Regions from separate parts of the Homo sapiens genome. Here region 1 is linked to region 2. The links come from fine-mapping of genetic effects on gene expression. A gene starts in region 2. The other region holds a variant in brackets. All regions are shown on one strand. Distances are from middle to middle.

Region 1 (10,739 bases), 38 kb after region 2:
GCCAGCAGGCCACACGCATGCCTACCAGGGCACATCAGCCATAACTTCTGAATGGAGTATTCAAGCCCTGCCCAGACCTCCCTTGGGCCACAATTTAACAAAAAATATTCCCTAGCAGTGGCTGCATGCCACTCTGTGTTGTACCTTGTACCTGGTGGAAGGCAGGGCCTGCCTTGCCCTGGCATGGGGCCTGCAGGCTTTAGGGCAGACATCCTCTGTTGGAGTGGTGGGCAAAGCAGAGGGCACCCTGGCTGCATTAGGTGGGAAGTCCGGTGAGGCAGATGAGGGGCTGGTATGAATGGCAACTCACTTGAGAAATTAGAAGCAAGAGGCCTGGAGTGAATATATCGTCAGTCTGAAGGTGACCAGCGGAGAGCTAGAGCTCTAACACGAGCGGGCCCTTGGGGAAATGCCCGTGAGAGGACAGCAGGGGGATGCCGCAGGAGGGGCAGTCCCTGAGCCCACGCTGACAGAGGCTTTTCTCAGAACAGCTGCAGCTGGGGTCTGGGCAGGAAGGAGCTCCAAAAGGTGTCCCTCAGGCTCTTCACTCTCTTCTCAGGCACCCAGGGCCCCCTGCTTTGGAAAAATCACCCCACACTCATTCACACTAGAGTTTAAATGACTTTCTGGGTAAAGAGTAAAATGCCGCAGCCCAGTGAATGAAATTCTATGTCATGATGAATGCATCAGCAAAGACCAGCGGGGAGAAGAGTTTGATGCCAGGAAGCTTGGCCCTCAAATCACTCACAGCCCTAGGGGAGAAGCTGGCTTTGGGAAGAGGTGTTACAAACCCACTCATGACCGAGCCTCTGACCAAGAACCCTTCGTTGTCAGGTGTTGCTGTGTAGCAAACCTCCGCAGTCCTCAGACACACATCCAACAACATCTGCTTTACTCACAAATATGCCATCTGGGCGGGGCTCATGCAAGCTCCTGGATCCCTCACCCAGCATGTGGGCTGGAGCAGCCGAGGCTCCTCAGGCATCTCTCTCCATCTCCCTGTGGTCTTGACACATGCACTCTCCAGCGTGGCAGCCTCAGGGTGCTGGACCTCTGACTGTCAGCTCAACACCATCACCCGCAGCCCATGCCCCGAGAGATCGGGCAGAAGTTCCATGCCCTCTACGGCCTGGCCTTGGATGTTGTGCAGCATCACTTCCACCACAGTTTGTTCATTGAAGCAGCACAAAGGTCCCCCGGGGGTATGAAGGGAGGGGACACAGTCTCTGCTTATGATGGGTGGTGGCGAGGTTCAAGAGGGGCACGTGGGGCCAGAAATATTGCTGGGGTCAGCGTTGAGTAATACCGTCTGCCACCGCCTTGTTCTCCATTGCCAAAACATAAAACACCTTAAACCCTCCCTGGGCTTTCCCACATGCTGGGCTGGGTCCATGCTCCTCCCTCTCCTTTCAAAAGAGTGGTATTTGTAGGTCTATATGCAAGCACATAGCCAGTCTATCATCTCTATACATCATCCCTGATTTGACAGTCATCCCAAAATGTCATTGTTATGGTGTCCATTTTGAAGATGAGCACACTGAGCTCCCGCAAAGCCAGGTAACTTGCTGGAGGCCACACAGCTAGAGAAGACCTGACCTCCAGCTGTGCGACAGCCAAGGCTACACTGTTTGGCTCACATACTTCCTTATTTTGTTCCGCATGAGAAAAAGGGCAGAAGGAGCCATGTGGGGTCACTCAGGAGACTGAGGGTGCACCAGAATTCTGCAATGGGGGTGACCTGGCTGTTGGGTCCAGTCCTGTAGGAGTTTCCCGTGCTCACTCCTGCCCTCAGGCTGCAAATGCGCCTTGAGTGCCCATACAGTGCCAGACCCTTCTTCAGGCTCTGGGGTCCTTCAGGAAAGGGACTAATGCACCCCGACTTCCTGGCCCTGCCCCTCTCCCTCCAGCCTTTTTGGTAGGTCCACCCATTTTAAGCTTCCTTCCTGTGCCTGGAACAATGACATGTTCTGTGCTGAGTGTACAGCCCGAGAAGTCCCAACCATCACAGGCCAGAGTTACAGAAACTGAGGATCTGTTGGGAGGGACGTCTGTCTACCCAGAGCCAAGGCGCTCATTGTTCCCACATCTCCTAGAGCTGGGCTCTGCGCCTCTGCCCTGCCCAGGCCTGCCTGCCGCAGCCCAGGCTTACCAGCTCCCAGCCTGCAACATCCTTGCTCCTGAGCCCGCTGCTTCCTTGAGCACTGGTGTTGAGGTTTGCTAGAGCCGTTCCATGCTCTTCACATCCCCCTAGACCCCGGGTGCTGCGTGCAATGACATAGAGGAGGTTGGCTGGGACCCTCCCTCAGCACCAGATCCACAGATGGATGAGTATCCCTAGGGCTCCCTCAACTCAGCATGGCTGAGCCTGATTCCCTCCGGACGGTCCGCACACACCATGTCCCCCTTTCCTCCACCTCCTACACTTCAGCAAACCCCATGCCTTCGTCCATCCCCAAATGTCCATTTCTTGCCACCAGCACTATGCCCTCCTCCCCAGACCACCCCAGTCCCTTGCCTAGGCTGTGGCAGCAGACACCTGATGGTAGCCCAGTTGCCCCTTGCCCTGTGTGGTGTGGCTGCAGAGTGACCCCTTTCTCAGTGCAAATCAGATACTAAGACACCCAAAGTAAGACCTCCCCTGGCCCGCTTTACGCTGCAGTGGCCATGCTTCTGTCCTCCCCTGCATGGCCACAATCCGGTCCTCTCCCTGCCCTTTCCTTCCTTGTCTCAGGTCAGCTTTGGGATGGGGTGGGATGGGGTGGAGTATCTGCAAACTAAGTTGAGCCCCAAGCACCTGACCATACACAGAGCAAAGACTGCAGGGTTCTTTCTGGCCTCTGGGCCCCTGATGTCTCCAACTTGAGCCTTGCGAGGGCAGGTTCCAGTTTTTCCAACCTTGCCTTTCTCAAGAAGGGTTCTGCCATGATTCACAACTGCCCATTGAAGGACAAGGTTCCCAGAGGCTCTTCCACTGCCTCCTGCTTGGCTAGGGAGAAGCACGCGTGTGGGGAGAAGCATGCGTGTGGTGGTAGCCGACAACTTGTCGCCAGCAGGGACCCTGGGCTGGGAGCCCACTGGTTGGTTTTGCTCACCTTCTGCACAGCACAGCTATTGCAGGGCTGGCACAGGAGAGACCCTCAGGAGACATTTGCTGATTAAATAATTGACTCCCATGACACTCCCAACTCCTTAGGGCACACTCTCTTCTCAGCCACCACCCCCCGCCCCCAGCCAAAACCCGCTAACTTTGTTTGGATTCCACCAAAGCCACAGTCTGGGCTCTGTCCTGCCTCACTCTGTCTCCCAGCACAAGCAGCCTAGACCTCAAGCACCTTCCTAGAGCACCGACTTCTTGCAGCTTTCAGGACCTGCTTCTGGTTTCCTCCTACCCTGCACCCCATCCCCCCCTCCATCTCTCAAGCTGCCCCTTATCTTGCCAGATGAGGAGGTTCACCACAGAAATCAGCAGATGAAGAAGTAGATACATGAGAAACTTGCCCCAAATCCAAGAAAGCAGACTTTCCTCTCGGAACTAGCCCCCTGCGCCTGGATGTTGTGCGGCAGGCCTTGTTTCTGTCGGGCAGATGGCTCCTGGGTTCCTCCCCTCCTGCCCCCCGCATGCCCCGCCCCACCCCCAGGACTGCTGTCACCAGGCATGTGTATCCACAAAAAGATGCTTGCCCAGCGCCCCTGTGCGTCCCATGCCTGAGCAAGAAGCTGCACTTCCTCGGGCCTCCCAGCTCTGGAACCTGCTGCTGGATGCCTCTTATCTGAATTGTGACTCCTCAAGAGATAAGAGCCTTTTTCTTAACAGAAAGGCAGGAGTTTGAAGCCTTCTGTATCCTGCATCTCTGAGCTCAGGCCTCCCGAGAAGCAGGAGCCGACTTCCAGCGGAGAGCACTGCTGCTGAGACCTGCCTGGTGGTCAGCTTGGGCTGGTGAGCCAGGGCCAGGCACAGGATGGTGGGGGTGGTGGGGGCTGCAGAGGGGGAGGGTGGTAGCCTGGAGGACCTGCTGGGCTTGCAGGCCCCCACCTGTCCTGGGGAACTGAGCAGAGGTCACGACGGCAGGACAAAGCCCCTTCTGAGAGAAGGATCTGAATCCATTCCTCGCTTCCAGGTTGTTGTTATTTTTGCTGTGCTTTTGATGACACCAGCACTGCCTCTCTACGTACAGCTGATTAGCAACCCTGATGATGACATTTACGGGGTGTTCATATGTCAACTAGAGCATCTACGTGTTCCTGTGGTTTTGGAGCAAGAGTGATTTGAGTTTCAGAGATTTTTACTAATTCTTCTTCCCCTACCAGAAAAAAAGATCTTACCATTTGAGAGTGAGATGTAAACCCAGCCCTGTCTGACCTGAGTCTGTGCCCTAAGCCTATGCTAAGCCAAGCAGTGCCTGGAGCCACCACAGGTCCACACAATTCGTTAACATGATGAAGCAAGGATGGAAATTGGACAAAATAGTGTGCCTACTGAATCTAAGAATGAAAAATGATTGCACTCCTACTCTGAGTGCTTTGGAGCACTGCCCAGTTGGGCAAAGGGTCAGCGCCTGGGCAGAGGTCCCCACAACCTGGCAGGAGTGTGGTCGGCCACCCTATGGGCCTCCATCATGTGCAGTGACAGCGGGGCTGTCATGTCACCGTGTGGGAGGGCTTGCAGGTGAAGTGGTCTGGGAGGGGTCCCCCAGACAAAGCCAAGGTTCTGAGAGTTGGCCCGAACACTGCTGGATTCCACGGCGGGGGCTTGGGACAGCCGGACTCAGAGACAGTAGGAGGTGACAATGTATATACATCACAATGATCACAATATAGCCCCACACGTGCCTTCCCCACCAACAGTCAGCTTGCCATGTCCCTTCCCCGACATCCCCATCTTAGTCCCAACACAGAGGCTCCCTCTGCCCTGTGTCTGTTTAGCCAGGATGCCACGGTTCTTCCCCCTTCTCCCATGTCCTCCTCCACACACCCTTCAAGGGCAACCCCAGAGATTTCTCCTCCATGATTTCTAAAGTCAGTGGTAAATCTGTTCCTCTTTAAAATCTCATCACACTGTTCACCACTTCCCCTATAATACAGTTCCGCATGGCCACGTCATACAACCCTGTCATATTGGTGAGCAATTGCTGTGTAGCCAAAGACCCCAAAACTCAAACAGCATTTATTATTATTGCCCCCATGTCTGAGAGTCAGATGTGCATTTGCTGATCTCAGCTTGTTTGAGCTGCTGCAGGGTTGGGGCTCTGCTCCAGGCAGGCTTAGCTGTCACCACATGCACACATACATTCTGGGCCTCTGCTGTGCGCGTCACGTTCACTGAAGATCTTGGGATTGGGAGTTAGGGCGGTGGGAGGGCCCAGCAAAGTCACCTGGCGATGGCAGGGACACAGGGAGGAATGTAGAATGGGGCCGATGATGGGACCCACACGTCTGCAAAGCTGCGGTCTCCTTGAGGGGTGGAGACAGCAACAACTCACCGCACGCGGTGCTTCAGTTCACCATCTCCCTGGGACATTAGGGGTCCCCGTGTTATCTCATTTTGCTCTGGTTTGCATTAGTTTTTTATCACTTCGTAGATGAAGCCACTGACACCCAGAGAGGGAAAGTGGCCTGACCAAGGGCCACAGCAGGGGAGCGAAGGAGCCCCACAGTCCGGCAGGAACACAGCCTCTCCCTGGCTTTCAGGTTCACTGACATCTTCTCATGGCCTCTGTAACTCACCAGGCATCAGGGTGTAGTCCTTAGACCAGTGTCCCACAGCTGCCACAGAGTGGGAGCTCACCATCAGTTATAAGTCACTAGAAAGGCTTTTGGACATTATAAGCTACAATGGAAAATAAGTCATCTGTGGATTTTTGTGACAGATTCCAAAAATTTGAATATTTTGTCTACTTAGGTTTTTGGTTAATTTTATCCTCAAAACTGTTCTGCAGTGATTAAGCTGTACAAACTGCACCATGGGCGAATTGGCATATTCAGAAATGACTGATATTCTTGATTTCAGTTTTTTACTTTGTATGTAGCTCCTCAAGGAAACATCATGTAACTTGATTCCCTGGGAAGGTCCAGTGCATGGCACGCATGGGCCAGAGGCCACTCTCCTCCATCCGTAGACCACACGTGTGGACAAGCCCCCAGCATGCCTAGAGGAGCAAGGCCAGGGCTGTGCATGCTGAGGCGCCCGTGGCCAGTGTCAACAGGAAAAACTAACTCCGCCAGTTGTACACGTCAGCCAGGTGTGGGGTCATGCATTTCTCAACCCTCGGGGACTCCTCAGGATGGGATGGAAGATGTGTAGGTAGATTTTGAAGAAACTGCAGATGGTGTTTCAGAGAGACGGTAGAACCATCCATCTCCACTGTAGCCCAGGAATAAAACTGTGCAGCTTGACATCCCCTCTCCCATTCAGGAATAAAAAGGAACAAACAACTGATACACACAACATTTGAATCTCAGAATCACTATGTGGAGTGAAATAAGTCAGATACAAGAACATCTGTATGATTCCAATCACATAGAATGAAAATTAACCTCTAGTGGCAAAAAGCTGGTCAATGGTAGCCTGGGCCCAGGAGTGAGAGGGGCCTGTCTGCCAAGGGGCACGGGGAACTTTAAGAGGGAGCAGAGATACACTGTGGCGGTGCTGCCAGGGCCCCTTAATAATGCACTGTGAATGTGCGCTTTGTGAGACAAAGTAGTAAACATAGGAAACCAC[G/A]TTTGCTCATTTGTGCTTGGCAGCAGAATTTCACAAAGTGCCTGTCTCTATAACGATGTGCAGCTCCCCAGAAAGATGCTCTGAAGACAAAACAGGATGGAGCACACACCCTCTCCGGACTCTTGCCTGAGTCACTATATTCTTTGCAGATAAATGGCCCTGGTCTTACCTTTTCCTACACGTAAGATAACATCTGACAGGGTCAGTGATTATTGCTCTGTAATTGAATCCATAACCTGATGCACTCTGACACCCAAGCTTTCATGTGACTTTGCACGTACTGGACCTCCCACCTATATGTCAACTGTGACCTGAAATACAGAACCTCAGTGGAGGCTGCTCCAGGGCTCTACGCCACAGCCTGTAGTCCTCGGTAAGCTTCTGAAGAAGACGAACTTTAATTCTTTAAAAGCTTGACAATAACTTTAAATGGATATGATTTATTGCCTGTAAATTATCCCTCAATAAAGTTGATAAGGATAAAAAGAAAAACTCTGTGATCTGGACACAGAACGAGCAGCCCTGGGTTATCTTTGCATTCTAGAAGGGGCCTAATATTTGTGTTAGTAGCAACAGCAGTGATGGCTGGAAGCCAGATTGTGCTTACTTGCACCAGGTGCTGAGCTGGGCACTGTATGCATCGGAGGAGGGGCATGGTGGCATGCTAATAGACCTTTATTTACAGTAACAGGCAGTGGGGTGGGTTCGGCCATGGACAGAGGTTTGCAGACATCCCAAGTTAAGGCACTCTGGCAGGTGTGCCTGGCGGGTCTTGGGAGCTGGGCCTCCAGAGGTTTGTGCTGACAAAAAGGCCAATGACCCCTCCTCCTGGCATTCTTGTGGGGATGGATGTGATGGGGTGTGGCACACAGTGATCAGGCCAGGTAACGGTGACTGAGACGCAGGGAAAAGGTGTTTCATTTAAGAAGGGTCGAGGTCAGTCTCCCCTCAGACCCAGCTTCCCTTGAGCCAGCTCAGTCCAAAGAGCACGCTGCCCTTCCTTCCGCACACTGGAGCACGCAGCCCTGGACCCACATTTCTCAACAGGAGCAAAAAAAGGAAGTCGGGAAGAGAAGCACAAAGCCAGTGAGTGAGGACTGGGCTTGCAGCACCCCCAAGGGCTCCCCAGGGAGAGGGTGGTTAGAACATCTGTGAGATTGCAGTCTAGGGTGACTCAGTGGAGCAACTGTCAAAGGTGCTAAGCTGGGATTTCTCAAGGCCCATCTTCCCCAGAGCTCCTCCCAGCCACAGACCCACAAAGGGCCTCCCTCATGGGTCTCAGTTACACCAGCTTCTCCCCACAGCACCAACAATCCTGTCAGCTTCTTCCCAGGCAGCAGCAGGCCTCACATCCCCACCAAAAGGGACACCATTGTGATAGCCTGGGCTGCAGAGATGCACGCCCTGCAGGGACAGCTGTAGGTCTTGGCACAGATACAGTGGCCTGGGCTAATCTTGAGCTGGGCCTTTGCCTCCTGGGTTACTGATGAGAAGCTCTGAGGCTGAGGCCAGTGGATGCCCCCCAGACCTCTCCACTCTCCCCAAGCACCCAAGGCCAGTTCTATGACTGTCCTGGTGAGTGCCAGATGCAGGGAAAGTGGCCCCCTGTGTGGGGCAGGTGGCTTCTGCATTTCTGATTAGGGGGCCAGGAAGGAGGCATTCAGGAGAAAACACCAAGTCAGAAAAAAGGTTCCCAGGACTGGGGACGAAAGACTCAGAAGGAGGGGAAAGAGGAAGAAAGCTGTAGGGGAAGGGAAGGGAGGGGGATGAGAAAAACGCTGGGGAACACCACTGAAGTTACTTCAAGCTAGCAACACTGGACGCTCAGGTCTTCTGTTGCATGGGTTACCGGGTTACATGCCAAGGGCTCAGTGGCTGCCTGTGGCTGGTGGCTCCTGTACGGGACAATGAAGATACAGAACTCGTCCATCATCACAAAAAGTACTACTGGACGGCACTGGCAAAGCCTAACCACATGTAAACTTTACTCAGGACATGAGGGGTTCCTGGCCTTCCGCCCCCACCCCCGGGAGCCTGGGGCCTTGGGTTTAGGCTGTCACTCAAACCCAGGGTCTCCCCACCTCGCCACTGTGGGCATTTGTGGCCAACCACTGCCTGTGATAGGGACTGTCCTGGGCACTGTAGGGTGTTGAGCAACAACCAAAACCTATCAGATGTCACCCAGTGTCACCCTGTTGACAGCCACTGCTCTAAATGGAAACAATGTGGCTTTGGGGTGAAAGGGGACCTGGGGGAAGTCTGGATCTGTCTCCAGAGCTTGGAGCTCCCGTGGGCCTGGCAGACGCTGGGGGTCCAGGGTCACAGGCTGAACCTGAGATGTTCCAACAGGAGGGGCCTGCCTGAGGGCCTGGGCTCAGAAATGAGGGGGCAGGAGTACATGCAGAGGGGACCCCTGCCTAGGGAGCTCAGGTCCTGCCTTGCAGGGACCTGAGGGGCCAGGCTGGAGGGAAGAAAAACTAGAGACCAGAAGATTCTAGAACACCAGATACAGCTATAGCAGAAGGCAAGGGGACTTAGAGTGATTTGGGCACTAGGATCAGGGCTGATGCGGGAGGGCAGGCAGGAGTGCTGGGGGGTTGCCTTGGTGGGGTTCGGGGAGGGGACTGAGCTGGGGTCAGGGACAATCAAGAATTCCTGGAGGGCAGCAAAGTAAAGAGGTTAAGCTGAGAGGCAAGGAGGCATCAAAGGAAGCGAAGAGGTGGGGACCAAGGGGACCCCAAGGAGTCAGGACTGAGGGGGCTGCCTGAGTGGGAGAAGAAAGGAGTCTGGGCCACAGGATTCTGAGGAATCTCACTCCTGAGTTGGGACCAGTGGGAGCCATGAGCCTGGGAAGAAAAGGGGCCCTGATGCGGGGCCAGGCCTGGGCTGGAGATCAGAGCCAGCAGGCCTCACGGAGCAGGATGTGAGCAGGGGGCACAAAACGCAGGGAAACCCAGGGGCTGTGGGCCACTAAGGGCTGGGGACAGCACATCAGGGCCCTTGGCCTGGCCGAAGCACAGCCAGGAGGTTTAACTCCAGGTGGAGTGGGCAGAGGTTGGTACTCGGGTCACATGGGCATGGCAGTTAGTACATGGACCCGGAGATGCCTGGACTGGGGCCTGGGCACTGGAAGTTAGAATGGGGGACTTTGGTAATGGGGATTGGCCAGGGAGGAGCTGGCATCGAGGGGCCACAGGAGACAGAAACTAGGCAAGGCAGCTTGACCTCGGCCCGCTGGGAATCAGGGGTCTAGGAAAAGGAGGAGTTTGGCGTGAAGGTGAGAGGCACGGGTTCCAGGGCACATAGCCCTTGTCAAGGGTGGGCCCATGGCTGTGGAAGGGAGTGCTGTGGATTATTGGACACTGGGCAGGGAGAGGCAGGGTCCAAGACAGCCAGGCTCTGCCTTGGCTGGGGCCTAAGTAAGGGTTTGGGGACCCAAGAGAGGTCTGTAGGCTGGAAATGAGCTGGACAGGCCAGAGTTACAGGGCCTAAAGCCTGGGAACAGTGACCGGGCTGAGGGATGGGGCAGGCTGGCCCTGGGAGGCCGAGGGGTCCAGGGGTTCCATGCACTGCAGGTCACCCTGCTGCATGGATAGATGGTGAATGTGGTTTTGGCATGGGCAGTGGCACAGCGGGAAGAAGACTGTGAAGCCAGCAGCAGGGACAGCCACGAAACCCTCAGCCTGCTCAGCATCTCCCCCTTTCCTCCGTCATCCTGGTTGGTGGCAGCCCCTCCGCCTCATCTCTGCATGGGGTGGGGGGGTAACTTTATATTATGAACTAATCATCATGAGAACCCCATAAGGAAGACCATATGGTTATCCCCCTTGCACAGATATATTGAGTCACTTACCCAAGATCACACAGCTAATTAACACCAGCGCCTAATTCAAACTCAGGCAGCCTAGTTCTGAGGCAGCGCTATTCAATCAATATGCACTTAGGGAACAGGCGGCCAGGAAGTGCAGGTGGGCCCCACCCTTACCCCTGCTCTGTGCTGAGGCCGCTGCCGAGCTGTCTA
Region 2 (10,739 bases):
CTCAAACAAGGGCTTGTGATGAGGATGGAAAAGACAAAGCAACTTGAAGAGAAAAAAAAATTCTTTTAAACTCAGTTCATCCTGCAAAATGGACATAACACATGCATATAAAGGTTTGACTTTTTAATTCCACTTTTTTGCCTGATCGCAGGGAAGATGGCATGTGGCTGGCCCTTCCTGAAGCCTTGCTCCTCCACCACTGGCTAACAGACAGGCCTCCAGGTGGCCTTGCAAGGCCGACAGTGACCGCAGCCCACTTCCCCACATCCTTAATCAGAGCCTCATGCAGTTCATCCCCACATTACCCAAACATAACGTCGTAGTGCTACACGTAGATGTGTTGCATCATGATGCTATGGCAATGACGATGACGCTTAGGTGTGTGGGCCACCGAAGGCAGAGACCAGATGTGGTTGGTCTTGCCTGGAAGCCAAGCTGTTGAGCAGGGGTGGAGTCCCTCTACAGAGGATGCTCACCAAGTTCTAATGCATTGTCGATAACTGTCCTGCCCTGGTTTTTCTGCATTCCTCAGATTATCTGTGGGAATTGTCCTCCTGCATCCTTTCTCAAATGACAAAGAAGAAAGAAAGAGCAGTGATGGCACCTGAAATTCAGGAATGAGTAGGCATGGCGAGCTGGGTGTGTGAGATGTTCTCTCTTTACATTGTCTGCTTTGAGATGTGGGATGAGGGGAGGGAGAGAGTTGGTCCTGAATATATTCAGTTTTTTCCAAGAGTCTCCCAGAATTATTGACCTATTTGGACAACAAATCTTCATTGTCTTGGTGTCCATCTCCAAGTGAAAACTTCCCCCGTCCCCATGGCCCTGGCTTGTTCTGCTGCTGAACAGGTCACCTGGGCAGAAACACTGTGTCTAGCGAGAAGTTAGCAGGTGGCAGGGTGCACCTCTCCCCATACTGTGACCCTTGGATTCCCCACTGTGCCACGCCCGAGCAAGCTGGGGCCCCTCAGGACAAGGACGATTTGTTAATGGCCTCTTGGCCGGTGGGCATTTGTTTACCCACTACTGTAGCCCCAAGATCCCCCAAACAAGAATTTCCATGCTTCAAAGTAACAGCAAAAATAAACAGGAGAATAAAGCACGTGTTTGAGCCCAGTGGTTTCCATCAGATGCACAACCTGAGCTGTCTGGTTGGGTTGCTGGCTCTCCCCCCGTGGTGGGAGTGGTGTGCAAGAGAAAGCACCACCCAGCAGGAGAGGGACCCAGCCTGCCAGGGAAGGTTTTGAGGAACTGGATTCTTTATCACCCATTTCTCCCCTTGTGGGTTCCACAGAGGGGTTCCATGACCTCCCTGTTGTTGAGAACAGGGCTGCATTCAGAGAACAGACGATGGGCCTGGGCTGTGAGAGCAATCAGAACACTGTGAAAATAGGAGGGCTCGTTGGATCCCAGGAATCATACACAGACTGCGTTGGGGCTGTGGGAAGCCAAGGACAGAAATGTCTCCTTCACCCCAAATGATAAGGGCAAGGATTTTCAAGGCCCAGAGGGAGAAATGTTGCATTTGCATTTATTTAAGTGCTGATGTTGGTCAGCAGCGCATCCAGCCATGTCTTTAGAATCCTCTGAATGGCCAGACAGATGGCTGCTCTCCACACCACAGACTGCCCAGCTTCACACATCACCTAGAGTCTCGTGGCCAAGGAAGTTTTGCCAAATGGACACAGCCTTTGTCTCCCTTAAGTGTTAAACACCAGAGTTCCAACTGAAAACTGGAGACCATGAGATGACTTTAAAAAGAAGTTCCAAATGCCCCATCGAGCCGCACAAAACCTCCATCTTTCCTTTCACTTCCCCTGCCCCTTTAGTTTTCTATTAAAAACAATCTGAACCATAGCATCTATATTTCAAAACTGGCAAGAGTATTAACCCTGCACCTTGTGGCCCTTCAACCACTCCAGAGTGTCACCTCAGAGACCGATGCATTGCTAAGGCAAAACCAGAAACACCCTTTCTCTGAGGCTTTGGGGCCTTGGAGGGAGACACATTTCCTCTGTCTGTTCTCCTGCACAGTGGTGGTAAAAAGCCCACAGGAGACATGAGGCCTCCCAGAGATACTCAGGTAACTTCTAGTGACTCTGACCATCGGTGACCCCCAGGAATGTGTTCCAGTGCCCCAGGCAGAATGGTGCCGTGTCTCTGTGTGTGTGTGTGTGTGTGTGTGTGTGTGTGTGAGAGAGAGAGAGAGAGAGAAAGAGTGCACACTATCGACTACATTATCATAGGGAGAAATATTTGCAAATGTAACTTTTAAAATGAGGATATAATTTAAATGGCTTTGAGCAGTTTTTGCTGTAAAAATGATTTTAGTTAGTCATCTCTTTCCCTCTTCCTTCCCTCCTTACCCCCAATTTTAAGGAAAAGAGACAGAGAACAAAAGTTCCTTAAGCAAACTGCCTGACTAGCTCCCTACTTGGTGTGTGCGCCACCCACACTTCAGGATTTAAAATCTCAGGATGCTGCATCAACTGTGGACTATGAACTGTGCTAAAATGCTTTAAAATGACAACTTTCAAAACACAGTGCATCATCTCCCGTTCACACATCCTTTAGGAAACAGCCTGATGGAACTTTCTGCAGGGCTTCCTCTGTCTGAGCTCGGAGCACTGGCATTCCGGGCAGGATGAAGTGGAGGCGGGGCCACAGGCAGGGTGTCTGAGGCCTGCCCTGGCTCAAAGACAGGTTGTCCTTGAATTTGTTTCCTTGTTAGTGTTGATCACATCCGTAGTCAAGTGTGTGGTAACCTCAGTACATTTGGATGAATTAATTCAAGTATCTGTGAACAAATCCCTGGCCTCTCTCGCCCTAGCCCCGTAGATTATGTGACTTCACAAACACCTGTAATGCACTTCAAGCAACTTTTCTCATATTTTTCAAGCTTCCTTTGCAAATAAACCCAAGGCTATTAGAAATGTAAGAACTAAAGAGGCACTTCCTGCCTCCTTGCCACCTAAGAGGTTAATTGCACTTCTGGCCATTCTGGAGGATGTCAACAGTATCACATTTAGCAAGACTTGTGCTGGCGAAATGGAGGAATGCAAATGTAAAGAAATGTTTCCAGTCCGAACATGTTCCCTTTGACCAAAAAACCAGATCTTCTTACCTAATTGAATAATTAATTGATTTAGTTTTCATCCTAGGAAGAGAAACAAATCATTTCAATCCTAATCAGCATGAGCAACTCACCTTTTCCTCTTAGATGGTGGAAGTGAGCAGAGAAGATATTCAGGGGAGCCCCTTAGCCCCGGCCTCCTCACACCCTGATCCGGAATTGGTCACATTGGAATTTGAAAAGGGAGGGGGAGTAACAATCATTATAGAGTCACGAAATCCCCACCGTGGCACGCCAACACACAGCTTCCACTTCAGGAACATCAAACACCCGTAGAAAATACCTGCATGTTCCAAGGGGCCTTTAAGGAGGAGACTTACAATTGTTTGCTAAGATTCCAGTCCAGTCTTTCAAAAAAATGTGGGTGCCCCTTTGGAATGGGGAGTTCAAAGCTCTGAGGATGGTGGCTGGTGACTCTAGTGTCTCTAGGGCCACCTCACTTTCAGCAGTCTGTCCCAGGTGTCGGACTATGGGAAACAAAACAGACAGCGTTGGAAGCCATGGCGCCTCTGTGCCTGCACGTCCCCACCTTGGGAGAGAGCCCCACGTGCGGCCGTGCTGCAGATGGGCAGTATGCTCTAAGGGGGCCCGAGTGCCTGGCGTGGGGGGAGGTTGAGGGGTCAGCTGCAAGGACCAGGGTGTGTCTGCCCACAGGAAACCTGGGCCTGCTCTTGCTGCCACCTCTTTGTACTGTAGTCAGTGCCCCCATGCCTGCCCATCCCCTCCCCCGGTCACTCAGGGCCCCCTTTACCTGTACTGGTTCTCCATGGCCCTGCTCTCAGCTCGCTCTGGAACCCAGGAGTAACTGTCTGCCGCATTCTGGGGCTTCTTCTCCTTCTTCTCCTCCCTCTTCGCTCTCCGCTTGCGATAGACCAGTAGCCCCAGAGCCAGGGCCAGCAGGAGTAGGATGGCCACCACGGTGCCTAGGATGTAGAATAAAAGCAGCTTTTGCCCGTCAGTGCCATCGTTGTTTTGTGTGGCCACGGAGGAGTCCCCACCTGCAGGCTCCTGGGGGCCAGAGGCAGCTGTGGCGTGATGGATGCTGGGCTCCCTCCAGACGCCTGGGGACCCACTGGGGGCCAGCATCTTGAGTGGGGCAGATGTGATGGGGGCGTCAGATGACAGCGAAGGTCTACTTGTGGTGGGTGTAGCCTTGGGGGTGCCCTCGGGGCCCCTTGTGGGACTGGCTGTTGCAGCACGGGGCACGGTGCTCCCTTCTTTCTCTCCTTTGTCCTCCTCATCGGGGGGCCCAGATGGTGGTCCCAGAGACACAGGCCCCATGGTGCAAGAGACCCCATTTGGGGCCAGCACCCAGCCTGGCAGGCAGCCACAGTGGAAGGACCCTTGTGTGTTGAAGCACAAGCTGTCGCAGAGGGGGCCCCCCGGGCCCACACACTCATCCACGTCCTGGCACTGAGTCCCGTCCTCCCCGGCCAGGACGTAGCCCTCCTCACAGGAGCAGTGAAATGAGCCATCTGTGTTGGTGCAGCCCTGGGCGCAAGGCGAGCGACCCAGAGCACACTCATCCACATCCTGACAGGCCCCCTCTCCAGGACCGCCCGGCTCATAGCCAACCCAGCATTCGCAGCGGAAGCCCCCAGGGGTGTTGACACACTCCTGGGCACAGGGGGAGTCCTGGCATTCATCCACGTCCACACAGTCCAGCTGACTCGAGTCCAGCTGGTACCCTTGGGGGCAGCGGCACGTGTAGTTTTTCCCATGGGGTCCCAGGACGCACGTGGCCCCCCCACGACATGGGCTGGAGCTGCAAGGGTTTCGAGAGGCACAGGTCACCAGGTCATCCAGCAGCCGGAATCCTGGTCGGCAGCCGCAGAGGAAGGAGCCATCCCCCCCTTCAAAGCAGTCCTGGTGGCAGCCCCCATTGTTGAAGTTGCAGCCATACTTGGGGCTGACACAGAGGGGGCCCGAGCTGCCCCAGTCGAACACATCGGGGGCCTTCTCCTTGCACAGGAAATAATGACTCTGAGTCTCGTCCTTGTCACCTTCCCCACAGGCTACATTGGCCGCAGAGGCAAAGGGCACAGCCTCCAAGGAGGAACTGGTGGTCTGGAAGGGGGTGGTGTAGGTCACCTGACCTGGGCCCCCCAGGGCCAGAGGCCGGCACATGCCTTTGAAGCTGAACTTGCACACGAAGCCCTCAATGTTACTTCCGGGGGAGCCTGGGCTCCCACAGGGGCCCTCAGACCACTTGGGGAGGCGGCTGGGAAGGAGCGGCTGGGACAGGTCCAGCAGCAGAGACACACAGCGCTTGGAGATGCACGAGTTCCGGAGCTCCTTGTGCCAGTTAGAGTAAGGCGTGTCCTCCCCCCCGCCCACCCAGCTGAAGCCCTTCAGCGGCAGACTAGGGTCCAGGCACTTGCCCTTCTCTCGCTGGAGCCCAATCCAGAACTTGCTCATCCTCGCCGTCAGGGCTGCCTCCCGCCTCAGGAGCTGGGCCAGTACTCGCTGGACGTGCTGGGCCTCCTCCTTGCTCTTCACAGTGGCCAGGTTGCCCCCGTTCTGGTTGCAGTGGTTCTGGGCCTCGGCAGCGCTCAGCTTGCCCGAGTGGGCCGTGTAGCAGGCGGTCCCCACGCAGACCACCGCCTCCGTGTCAGCTCCCGTCCCCGCCCCGGGCTGGGTCAGGAGCAGCAGCAGCAGCAGCAGCAGGCCCATGGAGGTGGCCATCCCGGTCTCTGTGTGGCCCTCTGCGGGAGGCGAGAAGCCCAGCGGCGACAGGAGCTTCTATCTCGGCTCCCAGCTGGGCCCCAAGGGGAGCTGAGGGGTGAGCTGCAGCCACTCCGGCGCAGAGAAGGACACAAAGGCTGAGGGCTTTCCACGTCCCCCTGACCCAAGGCGCATCCTGTACTGTTGTACTTCTTATTTCTCACCGGATGTTGGGGCTTCCTGCAATGAATAGTTCTCTGACTCCTGCTGCCTTCATCACGGTGCTGTTGTTCATAAAAGGAGTCAGGCAGCTCTGCCGGGTCCCTGGCTCAGCACTGTGGAAACAGCGACGGGGGGAAGACGTTACAGCCCCGAGATACTGCCGGCTTGATTTTGGCTCCATTCTCTTTCTCATGGCATGAGGAGCCTCGGAGGCATGCCATGGAGTGAGCAGGGGCTTTGGGGGCTAGGAACTCGAGGAAGCTCCCTTAGTAACCCATAATAAAATTCCACTTTGGTTTGCAAACCACCAAAAGAGAAAAAAAAAATTCTGAGACTTAAGACACAAGGCCATGGATGGTTATAATTTTCAGCCTTTTTTAGAAGCAAACTGGACTTTCCTTTTGCCTAGCTCATGTTCTCTGTTGACTTTGGGAGCCTTTTTTCTTTTATCCTCCCATCGTGAACCTTAAATAGACAGGCATTTTTTAAATAGGATACGGGTCGTGGGAATGTCTGGGTTTTCAACATAATGCCAAGCTCCTCGATAATGTTAATCCAAATTGGGTGAAATTTGGCAGTTCTGGGGGTTTCATAGTGGAAATATTGCATTGTGAGGTGTCAGGGTCACAAAAAGCATCAGAAAGAAAATGAAAATGTGTCCGGCCTCGTGGCGCAGGGCTTGCAGGCTCACTTCCCCCGGCTCAGGATTCCTAGCAAGGGCCGGAAATCTGGGCAGGGAGCGGGAATCGAAGCCCGGGCAGGCCCTCCCGCGACACCGCGACTCGGCAAAAGCCAGGGACTCACAGTGTGCTTTTCCTGCAGCCACAGACCTTTGCTCATTGGTTGGGATCCCCCAGGAGGGGACCCTGAGACAGGATTTGGGGAGACTAGTTTATGTGGGAGGGGAAGTGAAACAGACAAGGAGGAAGCCAACCCATGATGACTTGCTGAGAAGGTGACCCTGGGCTGCTGGAGCCAGTGCCAGGAAACTCTGGGGGCCTGAGGGGACCACACCTCAGCACCATCTCAGCTGAGGGAGAGGCTCCACTGCTCTCCAAGTCCCCTGTCATTGGTAGCAGGCTGTATCTCTCACTTTGAGAGACTGACTATAAATTCTAGCCCTGCCCAGTGACCAGGGGTCTCTCTCACATAAAACTTGTTTCTATGGACAGACACCCTTGTGGCTCTCGTCTGACCCATGTCCAGTTTATTCCTATCAAGACAGCCACTTCCTAAGAGATCCCTGATGGGAGGAGAGTTGGGTTGGGGTGTGGGTCAGGGGAGATGCAGGAGGCAGCACAAGAAGACACAGGAAGCAACACAAGCACCGTGTCACTTACAGATCCCAGGGAGAGGGCAGTGCACCCCACGGGGCCAGCAAAAAGTGGGGAGCTGTCTGGGTCACAAACACTCACCTGGAGGGGGGTGAAGGGAGAGAGAGAGACCTGGGTCCTAAGCCTTTATTGGGGTCCAGGACGTTTCCCAAGCAGGTTTCCCAAGGGGACTTCTCACTGGTGGGTTTAGAGCAAACAGACACGGGCTCCGTGGGGTCCCTGTGGCTGAGAGGTGGGCATGGCGGCATGTCTGGGAAGTCCCTGTGGGGTGTGGAGTCACTGAGACCATCAAATGGGCTGTATCTGCCTGTCCCACAGGGAAATGGTCACCAGGAGGTGGGTGTACAAGGCAGATATCTGGGTTGGCCGCATTGAGGAACTGGGAGGGGGTGGAGCCCTAGACACCGTGTCAAGAGCAATAAACCCTGCTTCTGGTAGGAGAGGGTCCAAATTAGATTCAAAATGGATGCAATGCACAATTATAAGAATTCTCTACACAGCGGCAACTCTTTGGTGCTCTGCACTGACCGTGAGGGCCCCAGGGGAAGAAGCGCCACGGTGGAGAACACAGTGAACGCCTGTGGACCCGGCACCAGCGACCACCACAGTGGCCTCCATGGAGATGTTGAGTTGTCCCGGGGGCTAGGAGCTCGCTGGCTCCCCAAGGGACAAGGAGGCATCTCTGACTCCAGCTGGATACCTCCTAAGAATGTGCCTTAAGTCCTTGCATTTTAGCAAAGATATTTGAGACATTTTGGGAACTCTCCATAGAAGCCACCAGACCCTCCCTGTGCCCCTTCATTCATCCATCTGTTTGTCCATCCACCCATCTAACAATTGTTGATTAAGACCCTGCTATGCACTGAGTGAGGCACTGGATTCCAGGAGGGGATCCCTGCCTCTGTGATCCTGGAGTCCTGTTAGAGTGGACAACTTTGAACAAGTCACGGCACTGATGGCTTTATTGCAGGCAGCACAGGGGAGCGGGGAGGTCGTGGTTGATACAGGGGTGGCATCCTGACTGGGGGATGGGCAATTAGGAGAGACTCCTCTGGAGAAGACAGGCAGTCAAGCCGGAATCTAAAGGAGAAGCAGCTCAGATGTGGAATGGTGTCGGGATGGGGGAACAGCATGTACAGAAGCCCTGGGGACAGAGAGTGAGTGAAGGGCAGGGAGACCAAAGCCCAGGCAGTGGGAGGGAGGATGCAGGGGAAGATGGAGCCCTGTGAACCCCAGTAATGAAGGCTTGAGGCTTCGTCTTGAAATCCACGGGGAAACACTGAGGGCTGGCATGAGGCCTACATGTGGAAGGGGACTGGTCAGTGGACCCAAGCAGTGGGTGGGGGGGCCCTCAGCAGGTGGCCGCAGGTTTCCAGGCTGTGGAGTCCAGGTCAGATGTTCTCGGGGCTGGGTGGAGGTGGGGGGAAGGGCACCGGGCACGCAGAAGGACTGCATGGCTCCTGCCGGGAGCTGGGGTCCTGGAAGGCTGTGTCCGCTGGAGGTACCTGGTTCTGAGAACACAGGGGATTGCCTCTTGGGGCTCAGGGTCTCCCAGACCCCCTGTCCTTGTGACCTGCCTCCTCGGGACGCTAAGTGTGCCACCAGAGCTGGGTAAGCAGCCAGCTGTGAGGGGTCCAGGGAAGGCTGGTGTCCCTGGCTCCCAGTCAATATAGCTGGCCATGCATTTGAGTTTGGCAAGGGTCAGTCTTGTTCTCTGCTTGGGAGAAGCTTCATTTCTAAGGGTTTATTTACAAGCAGGTAACTTCTTAACATTCTGTAAAATCAATTCTGCAGCCCTAGCATCCACTCATAGCAGGGAGCCGTTCTCGTGGTCTAGGCCCCTGTTTGTGCAGCTCGGAGGTAGATTCCTCAGAGGTAGATTGTGATCTGCAGCATTCGCTCAGCATTCTACTTAGTTGGTGCTTAAGGATATGGGCTAAATGAGTGACTTTCAGCATGTTAGCCACTCTGACCCCCAGATCTTTGTCAAGATATCTTCTTTAGCTGTAAGTTATTCATCTTCCATGTGGGAACTTTCAAACCAATTACTGTTCACTTAGCCAAGTGATGACATCTTAAAGAAGAAAATGAACTAGCAAGACATATACTCTGTTTTTTATCCATTAACCTTGGAAGTATTTGTAAAGCACCAACAGTGAGAAAGACTATGTAAAATGCAGAAACTGCCTTGCCCTGGGGGTCCTTGGATTTTACTTTATTATTTTCAGTAACTTGGTTAACTCAGCCCCACTTCTCATCTATAAATGCAGAGGTGGGAACAGGGCCTCTGGAAACTTTCTTGCTCTAACATTAATAAAAGTGAAATCATGCTTAACTCTCCCCTCTGGAATTAGGGAGAAAGCAAGTTGGGAAGAGAGTGGACACTGAGACCATTGCTGAGCCCTCGACATACTGCACATGTAAGCAAACCTCTGTCTAAACTGCACACACCCAATTTCATCCCAAATTGACCCGCTGACTGCCAAGACACAGGGTAGTTTCCTATTCCTTGTCCCCCACATCTGACTTCCACTGTGTCCCTTCACCCTTTGGCTGATCCCTGCTGGGCTCAGGTGGGTTAATTCACCTGGGACACTTACAGCTAGGTTCTCTAGCTCCAGCCCCGCCCTTCTGTGTCCGCTCCCACCTATAGGGGACGCTCCTTAGAGGCTGTTCAGGGGATTCGTAGAGGCTGAGGGCATGGTGCTTCGACCTCAGGGGAGGATGAAGAGCTTGCTTTTCCTGGGAGGGATTTGGTGGAGTTTTACAAAGAATTTAAGATAGTCTGAATGCAAACTTTGAGGGAATTCTGCACCTCACATACTAAATTCCCCATGGATGGTGTTTCATCCCATTTTATTTAGAGAGCAGATTATACCAGACCTCTCCAAGGACCGATACTTAAACAGCAGGAATCAGCAGAAGGAGATGGAAAAAGTTTTTCTCGGCAGATCTTTGGACGGAAGCCACGTTAGGTGTTCTAGAACCATGGCGAGCCTAACAGCATGGCATGTACCCTGAGCAAAAGGCTCCTCACCATTTGTGTGTATTCTGCAGTCTTTATGAGTACTCTGAGCTTTCTTTTTAAATTGCCTTAAAAATTTACTTTGCACGATGCTGGAATGGAATGTTCTGATCTCAAATATGGGGCGAGTTTAATCTCAGTTATTTGGGAGCAGACTAATTGGTTTGTGGATCATTCAGGCATCCGGCCTGTCTTTTTCCTTTTTTTTTTTTTTTGTAACTAAAAATTAAATTAAAAAGGGAAACAAAGCACACTGCGTATTTCCTGGCATAACATGGTATATGGTAGACTCACAATGAGCAACAGTGGCACAGAAATGGTGGAGGAAATGAAACAGAACTGGAGTCACTGTGACCTGTCA

Which allele goes with the higher level. Alleles are on the strand shown, and positions count from the first base shown. SD is a standard deviation of normalised expression in the study named.
With allele A in place of G in region 1, the expression in follicular helper T cells of the gene that starts at base 5,950 in region 2 is higher (large effect, 1.1 SD a copy in Schmiedel 2018).

Evidence for each region.
Region 1: its variant is fine-mapped to the expression of CD93 in follicular helper T cells (Schmiedel 2018, PIP 0.95). The same link has a PIP of 0.9 or more in Th17 cells and Th2 cells.

Annotation. Positions count from the first base shown.
Region 1 is chr20:23,117,926-23,128,664 of GRCh38, forward strand. It overlaps LINC00656 (long intergenic non-protein coding RNA 656), which reads right to left. Exons shown (of 4, transcript NR_034149.1): 3 at 10,704-10,739; 4 at 7,143-8,613. Among named protein-coding and RNA genes, the nearest start is that of LINC00656, 9.3 kb to the right of the region's middle. RefSeq lists an enhancer at 334-513. The variant G/A (reference allele first, on the strand shown) is at 6,719.
Region 2 is chr20:23,080,375-23,091,113 of GRCh38, forward strand. It overlaps CD93 (CD93 molecule), which reads right to left and starts at 5,950. Exons shown (of 2, transcript NM_012072.4): 1 at 3,885-5,950; 2 at 1-3,600. The coding sequence starts at 5,818. The coding sequence ends at 3,576. RefSeq lists enhancers at 5,934-6,113, 7,641-7,780.